Linked DNA regions of Homo sapiens: region 2 is reported to be linked to region 1. The links are microRNA targets in miRTarBase. Many come from high-throughput screens and were not tested one by one. Region 1 holds a microRNA gene; the other region holds the end of a gene's coding sequence.

What was found. Region 1 holds the annotated microRNA hsa-miR-218-5p (UUGUGCUUGAUCUAACCAUGU, at 2,196-2,216, opposite strand). A microRNA usually pairs through its seed, bases 2 to 8, with sites in the 3' UTR of a target mRNA and lowers its output. Matches are read on the target gene's strand: a 7mer-m8 pairs with bases 2 to 8, a 7mer-A1 pairs with bases 2 to 7 and ends in A, and an 8mer does both.
Region 2: miRTarBase lists SOST as a target of hsa-miR-218-5p. Seed matches in the 3' UTR shown: 7mer-A1 at 3,323-3,329 and 7mer-m8 at 2,399-2,405.

The regions. Positions count from the first base shown.
Region 1 is chr4:20,526,447-20,530,514 of GRCh38, reverse strand. MIR218-1 (microRNA 218-1) reads right to left here and starts at 2,240; the gene lies at 2,131-2,240. SLIT2 (slit guidance ligand 2) reads right to left here. Exons shown (of 37, transcript NM_004787.4): 16 at 1,416-1,566.
Region 2 is chr17:43,751,578-43,755,632 of GRCh38, forward strand. SOST (sclerostin) reads right to left here. Exons shown (of 2, transcript NM_025237.3): 2 at 2,161-4,055. The coding sequence ends at 3,765. Among named protein-coding and RNA genes, the nearest start is that of SOST, 5.2 kb to the right of the region's middle. RefSeq lists a silencer at 2,744-2,946.

The sequences.
Region 1 (4,068 bases):
GCTCAGGAGTTCAAGACCAGCCTGGACAACAGGGCAAAATCCCATCTCTACAAAAAGTACAAAATTAGCTGGGTGTGGTGGTGCATGCCTGAGGTCCCAGCTTCTTGGGGAGATGGGGGTGGGGGACTGAGGTGGGAGGATCCCTTGCGCCCAGGAGGCCAAGGCTACAGGGAGCTGTGATTGTGCCACTGCACTCCTGCCTGGGTGAGATAGTGAGACTCTGTCTCAAAAAAAAAAAAAGTACTATTGTGCTGGAAGGTATCACTTGTTTGTAGTATTATAGGTAATAAGCATAAATCCCTATATGTCTATAAAAAATAAAGTTCAGGGCCTTGGTTGCATGGACTCCATGCATTTCTAAAATTCCTGGAGCTGTGAAATAGCTTCATCAACTAATAGGAGTAAAAAAAAAAAAATCACTATAACTACAAGATAGTGGGTTTCTGTCAACTCTTTGAAAGGCATTACTTTATTTTTAGTTATTCAAATTGCTAAAAATTAATTAAGTACAGGCATGAGTATAGGCACAGTGAGAGATAAACAATAACACACAATCCCTGTCATCAAGGAGCTATAATCTAGTTAAAGATGGAAGGATTATATACAAACAAACAGACAACGAACTTTGCAAAGCAGTAAATGACAAATACCAGATGGTGCTATATATAAACATGGCTAAGATGTTTAGAGAATGATGAGGTTTTGCTAGTTTTTTCCCTGAATTGTTAGAACACTAACATTAAAGGTCCTCTTCTTATAAATAAAGTCAGTAAAGGCAAACCATGCATGGGCATAGAATCTGTAAGTGCTCCAACAAACACCTTAGCACTTAGTATGTGCAAGGTCCTATGTTAAGGCTGTTAAGTGTAAATACCATCATATTCTGCCTTTTCAGCTTTTCTTGCATTGTTCAGAAAAAGCTATCCTTTCTACTTTAATACTTGATAACCACTGAATCCTTCTGCCCGTAAGTCAATGAAGTAGTAAATTAGGTAAGACAGACTCCTTGAATCTATTGATAGTTTACAGAGATTGAAAATGGAGGCTCTCAAACTACTTTATTTAGTTGCTATAAGAATTAAATACGTTAAAAACTAAGTACTTAGAAAACAAATTGGGAATAAATAATACCCAATAAATAAGCATCAAATAAATACCATTGTTATTAGTATGAAGTGCTTACTGAATTTTGAGAGATAAATTAGTTTCTGTACTTAATCGTATGGTTGGCTAGAAAGATGAATGAAGGTAGCCTCTAATATATTCTTGTACAAAATAGAGTTATGCCAATGTAATGCATATTAATTAAAATTAATGCAATTATTAATAATAAAAATGGCAAGACAAACATTCTTATGCTTTAATGCTTTCATTCCCTCCATCCCAACCAGAATTTTGTTGGGGGATGAACTTACAACTCTGCAGTGTACTGGGGAATGTGCTCCGGGATTTTGTTGAGCTTTTGATTAGAGCAATCTACTGTGGTTCCTTCACAGCGACACTTTTCAGGGCAAGCCAGATCCGCAAAGCAGTCTCCACTTAATTTTGATCGATAATCTTCTGTACCTATTGAGAATTCAAACCAAAAAAAAGATACTGAGTCTAAAGGTTAGAAAATTTATTAGTTTGTAGGAAGAAAAAAGTAAGATAACTATAGATTATGTAGCAGGGAGACAACTTGGGGTATTTTGGTCAATGGATGTCAGGAGAAAGGTTAAAAGAAAGGCTTGGAATTTTCTGGAAAAAAGAGTGACCAGATTCACATGACAGGAAAACATTAATAAAGTTGAGCTTTTCACAGCTGTACTTTCTGCTGATCCAATTCTGAGTCATTCTAGCCTACTTCACAGCTAGTCACACAATGGATATTAATTATTAAAAAGTTTATTTTTTTTCTCGGAGTCAAGAATTGAAAATATATCCAGTAATAAACATGATCCTATATCTCATTGTAAATTAGGGCTTTCAAGGCAAATAGATATACTCAGGCTTTTAAATTTTCTATGGACTTTTTACTATTCTCTCCCTCTCACATAATCTCGGAGATGCCTAAAAAGCCCTCTTTTTTCATTTTGATTTTGTAGAAAGAGACAGGAAAATCCTGATTTAAGCCTCAGCAGCTTGTCATGCTGTAGAAAGCTGCGTGACGTTCCATGGTGCTTGACGGAACCATGTTTTACTCATACCTCGCAACCACATGGTTAGATCAAGCACAACAGAAAATCTCGCTACATTATCACTACACCAACCACTAGGCCAAAGGTAAGACCAAGAGGAAAATGGAGGGAAGGAGGAGAAAAGCTACAGACGTTCTGGAAACGTAATACTGTTTACATGACATGCATTCTTCCCGCAGAATGTTTATGACCACAGTAAGAGTATTACTACCGATGATTTCCTGGAAACACAAAGAAGGGGCTATATGGAAAAGGTGCCTCCACCATTCCTCAGAACTGCAGAATGGAAACAACAGCTTTCGGGAACAACATCCAGGAAGAAGTTGAAGGTGAGCTACAAGGACAACAGAGAAGCTCAAAAGATCTGTGGTTTCTTCTTGAAAAAAAGGTGCCAAAGACCAAGACTAGAAGAAGGTACATCAGGATTGAAAAGGGAGGGTATTATGTTTCAGATCAGACACTTTTACTTACAGCCAAAATGGTGAATTCCTGCAAAAGTAAAGATCACCAAGAAGGAAAGAAAGAGTAATCCCAATTAAGATTAATATACATATTTATAAAACTAAGCTCTCTTCCTTCTTTCTTTATTATGGGAATTATTGAAAAAATAGCATGATGTGATGGGAATTGTCATGCTTTGTAAAATTTTATAAATAATATTTTGAAGCACGGTGGTCTCACAAGAAAACCAATGTAATAAAAGATGCATAGTGCAAATTAAGTTCTTGATTCCTTTAAAAGATGAACTCTCAAGGCCGGGTGTGGTGGCTCACGCCTGTAATACTAGCACTTCGGGAGGCCAAGGCGGGCGGATCACAAGGTCAGGAAGTCAAGACCATTTCACCTGACGGGTGAAAACCCATCTCCAGTAAAAATACAAAAAATTAGCTGGGCATGGTTGCGGGCGCCTGTAGTCCCAGCTACTCGGTGAGGCTGAGGCAGGAGAATGGCATGAACTCGGGAGGCGGAACTTGCAGTGAGCCGAGATCATGCCACTGCACTCCAGCCTGGGAGACAGCGAGACTCCATCTCCAAAAAAAAAAAGATGAACTCTCTGCAAGACAGATTTTCTTTTATCACTGTAATATGTAGAGTGCCATATAAAATGGTAGTAGCGAGGTACACACGTAAAAGTGAATGAAAAACTAATCATGGAGATCCTCAAGGACAATCATTACAACATTTGGATTAATCCTTATGTTGTGATGTACACTTTTTAATGAACTTTTCAACTTATAAATAATGTGTCTTAGTGGAAATGGAATCAGAATCTCATAAGAAGTTTGCGATGGTAAATATAATCGTTTCATTACATTTGGCAGTTAATGCCATGATATTTACTGAGGATCTGGTGTCTTATGATTTATGCTTCACTCCAAAATGAAATAAGAGTGCACAAAGTCTAAGTGACAGGTACACTGGATATCTTGCAATTCAAATAATCTGCATTCAACGGAACAGTAATAATGCTTATTTTATGGTGGCTTGTTAGGTGGACTCAAATTTTAATTAAAATTTTTGGAAAAAAGGGGAGGAAGCCCAAATGATCCTTTTGAGTCCTGGCTTCTACAATTATCATGTTTAAAGAATGTAAATTAAATTATCATAAATTGAAACTTAAGACATGATATTTGATATAAAAGATAATTTCCAAATCCTATTTTGGCTGCTGTCAGTAACAGGGAAAAACTATATCAGAATATATGAAAACAACCTGACTTTTGTTCTTTATTTAGTGAATTGGAAATATTAAACTTACCAATTATTAATTAAGTATATTTAAATGAAATAGTTTGAATAATTTGATACCAATTACATTACTGCCATAATTTTAGGATTTAAATCATATTAATGTTTTATTCTATAGGTAGTCTGGTGTTTAGAATATGGC
Region 2 (4,055 bases), not on the chromosome of region 1:
GATTGGCGCCAGGCTTATAGACCCCATGTAGGTAGAATATAACTTTCCATAAATAACCTCTAACCCGACCTACAATTTAGCCTTCAGGTTTTTTTCCCCCTCGTGGTAATGGGATTGCAGCCTGGGCTGATCCATCCTGTATCTTCAGGTCCCAGAAAGCAGACCCTAGGTTTGGACATTGCTTGGAATTCCTGGTACCCCCATGTTGCCTTGCACATGGCAAGGACTCGGTACATGTTGAGGAATGGTGGATTCTCTTCTACCCATGAGCAGCCATGCACTTGCAGTCTTTGCTTGGGCTATGCCTTCTGCCTAGAAGCCCCCTTCTCCACCTGGAAAATCTCTAAGCAGCACCCACTTTGTGAAGCTTTCCCTAACCACTATCCCTCATCCCCTCCACAGAGCAAATTACTCCTATCTTGGATTCCCATAACACTTGGTACAAAACAGTGTGACCTGGTTATTGCCCATGTGCCCACCAGGTTCTAAGCAGCTCAAGTGAGGGGTAGGGCAAGGAACTGAGCCCAAGTATGGCTGTGGGCAAAACATTTAACCCCTTGGTGCTTCAGTCTCCTCAGATTCAAACACCAACCTGGGGCTGGGTGTGGTGGCTCACGCCTGTAATCCCAGCACTTTGGGAGGCCGAGGCAGGCAGATCACTTGAGGTCAAGAGTTCGAGACTAGCCTGGCCAACATGGTGAAACCCCGTCTCTATCAAAAATACAAAAATTAGCCAGGCGTGGTGGCACGCACCTGTAATCCCAGCTACTCTGGAGGCTGAGGCAGGAGAATCACTTGAATCCGGGAAGGCAGAAGTTGCAGTAAGCCGAGATCGTGACACTGCACTCCAGCCTGGGCAATAGAGCGAGACTCTGTCTCAAAACAAACAAACAAACAACACAAACCTGACCCAGAGCCCGTGTCCCCACCCACTGGACCGCACTGCCTCTCAGGGATGGAAGATGTCTCTGTTTCCTACCTGCTCTCATATTCTGGGCCCTGAGACACTCATGATGCATGGATTTTCTGCAGGGGCTCACTGAGGCCTCCTCGGGGGCTGGAGCCCCAGGAAGGGACCGGCCACTGATACCCACTCACACCTATCAAAGACTTGATGATGATGATTAATTCAAGTGGGTTATTGGTAGTTAAACTGACAAGTCATCAGGAGGGACCTCAGCTTTCTTTGTGGGGGTGGGTTCCCCCAAGGTAGGCTGGACTTAATTTAAAGCTTTCCAGTTGACCATCCCACCTTAGGGCAACTGAAGAGTAACTTTAGGGTTACTCTTCATCTGAAGATGCTAACTCAGCTAGCATCCAGCACTATTAAGACACCTTGGGGAGGCGAGACTTTGAGAGAAGTGCAGGAGGCTGGCCCACTTTTGAAGATCCTACATTTCTACCCAGGAGGCATCAAATCCACACTTCGAAGAAGATGAAGTTTCCTGTGAGCTGGTCCTGAATTGTACTTGGCTTTGTGTTGTCTATGCCAGTACTAAGCAGGACTTGGCCAGGCTGGTCCTCCATGAATGACTGTCAAATGGAAAACAGAATTAGGAACCAAAGTAGTGGTGTAGACAAAAGGGGCTGGAACCTCAGAGGAGAGAGGGATCATGGGAGATTGGAACATCTCTGGAAGGTTAGGGGAAGAGATGACAAGTAATGTGAATCCTAAAGAAAGAGGATTAGTTATTGGGGGTGCTAAGTGTGGATGGCAAACTAAGGAAGCAGGGATCTGCATGACCATTTGGAGTCAGTAGGAAGCTTGGTGGAGTGGGAGGTGGGAGTCAAGCAGAGAAGGCCTCCCATGTCAGATAGGGAAACTGCACTTGATCCTGGGCAAGGGGGAGCTATGGAAGGCTTTTGAGCAGGGGAGTGATACAATGAGAACAGCATTTTGGAAGCCAGCATGGAGGGGAGGCTGCTAAAAGGATACAAGGCTGAGGTTATTACCATGCCCTGGGTGAAGAAATGCGGTCTGGGTTTGGAAAGGAAGGGATAAACATGACTTTTCAAAGGAAGACATAATTGCCACAAGGGCCACCAGAGAGCAGTCAAAGGTGTGTCCAAGGTTGGAGCTCTAGTGACCAAGAGAAGGGTGTCAACTTTGACAGAAATGACGTCATGTGTGGTTGACAAAATGAGACCACATCCTTTCGGTCATGATTCATTGTCTTTATTAACAATGTCTCTGGACTCTGGAAGAACAGACTGTTAATTCATAAAGCAATATTAACATTGTCATTCTCTACAAGAAAAACTTTTGCATAAATAACTTAAGTGAGAAAATAAATATGTAACTTAACTCTTTAAAAACCACTACTTTCATTCTTGTGGACAAGTCCCACGTGGAAGAATTGCCAAAAAAACGACCAGTCCTGCAGGCTTTCATATGTCATGTGCTTCTGTTTAAAACTTTTTTTTTTTAACAATTAAAAACTACACAGAAAGTAAGAGGTTGTCTGGAAATGATTTTCAAAAAGATTTTTGGGTGGCAGTATTATGCTCTGCAGTTTCTCAGCATATGTACAGCACTTGTAGTTTTTCCCCCAATAATATTCTTTTAGTGTAAGATATGCCATCACATGTAAGAGCAGTAAGAAGCTGTTTTCTAGGCAGAAATGTGTCCGTGAGTGGTGGGCAGAAGGCGGTGTCTCAAAAGGGATGTGCTGGTCTGTGAGTTTGTGATGGCTGCTCCCTCGGGCCTGCAAGGCCAGTGTCCTTGAACCTTTCACTTCTCTTCGGAAGGTGACTTTAAAACATGGCTATGGGTCGGGGGAGGGATGCTGCTCTTTGGGAAGTTGGGGCGGATGTGATTTCTATCCCTCCCACCACCCTCGGACCCTCTCCTTTTCTACCCCAATGGATGATGTTATTTCTTTGAGATGGAGGGGTGGAGGTAGCCAAACATCCGGGGAAGCCAGGCTGGGAAGCAGCATAGCTTCTTCCAGGAGTTTGTCAGCCGTAAATATGTCAGCCATAAATAGACTCTTTACTTTTTTTTTTCTGTTTGTTTTTCATCTTTGGCTGTCAGAAGAGAGCATCACAACTCTGAATTCTGGAAGTGACCTTGGCACTGAATCAATGCAACTGCATTCATTCTCTCTCTTTCTCTCTCTCTCTCTCACCTCTGCCCATTCAAAAGGCACTGGAGTCCTTGGAATCATATGCCAATAGTCTCCTCGAGATCCTATTCCCACCTCCACCCTCATTTTACAAAGTGGAAATTGAGGTCCCGAAGGAGAATTGTGTAGTTCAAGGTTACACAGCAAGTTAGTGGCAGAGCCAGGACTAGAAACCACATCTACAGTTGCCCCCAGTCTTGTGCTCTGGGCACGCCTCAGGCTTTCTGATGGGCAGCGAGGTGCAAGGGGGAATCTTATCCAACTTTCTTAACCAGTCCCTGGACTTTCCCACTCCCACACCGCTCCCTTAAAACCCCAGGGCGGTGAAAATGCTTCCATTTCTGCCTCCTCTGAAGTGGGACCAGCAAAGGTAGGCGGCCCCAGAGGCGGGGCTGCGTGGCTCAGTGTCTGTGACTCTCAATTCCCTCCCCTGCCCCGTGGGACCCCTCAGCTGGCGGGCTGAGGGGGGCCTTGCCGGCGCCCGGGATTCCTCAGGGCCTGGAAGGTCTCAGCCCCCTGCCCTGGGTTGCAGGCATTTACAATGAAATATAAACAATCAAACCACGCGCAGAGGACAGAAATGTGGGGCGCGGGTTCAGGGCCGGGGCGCCCGCCGGTGGGGAGGGGCGCGGGCGGGCTCTAGTAGGCGTTCTCCAGCTCGGCCTGGTTGGCTTTGGCGCTCCGGGCGCGGGGCCGCGGCTTCCGGCCCTTCTGCGGCCGAGCGGCCTCGGTCCCGAAGTCCTTGAGCTCCGACTGGTTGTGGAAGCGGGTGAGGCGCTTGCACTTGCACGAGGCCACCAGGCGCACCTTGCGCGCGCGCGGCGCCTCACCACCGGGACACAGCAGCTGCACGCGCTGCGCGCGGTAGCGGTCGGGGATGCAGCGGAAGTCGGGCCCACTAGGTCGCCACCACTTGCCGCGGCCGATGGC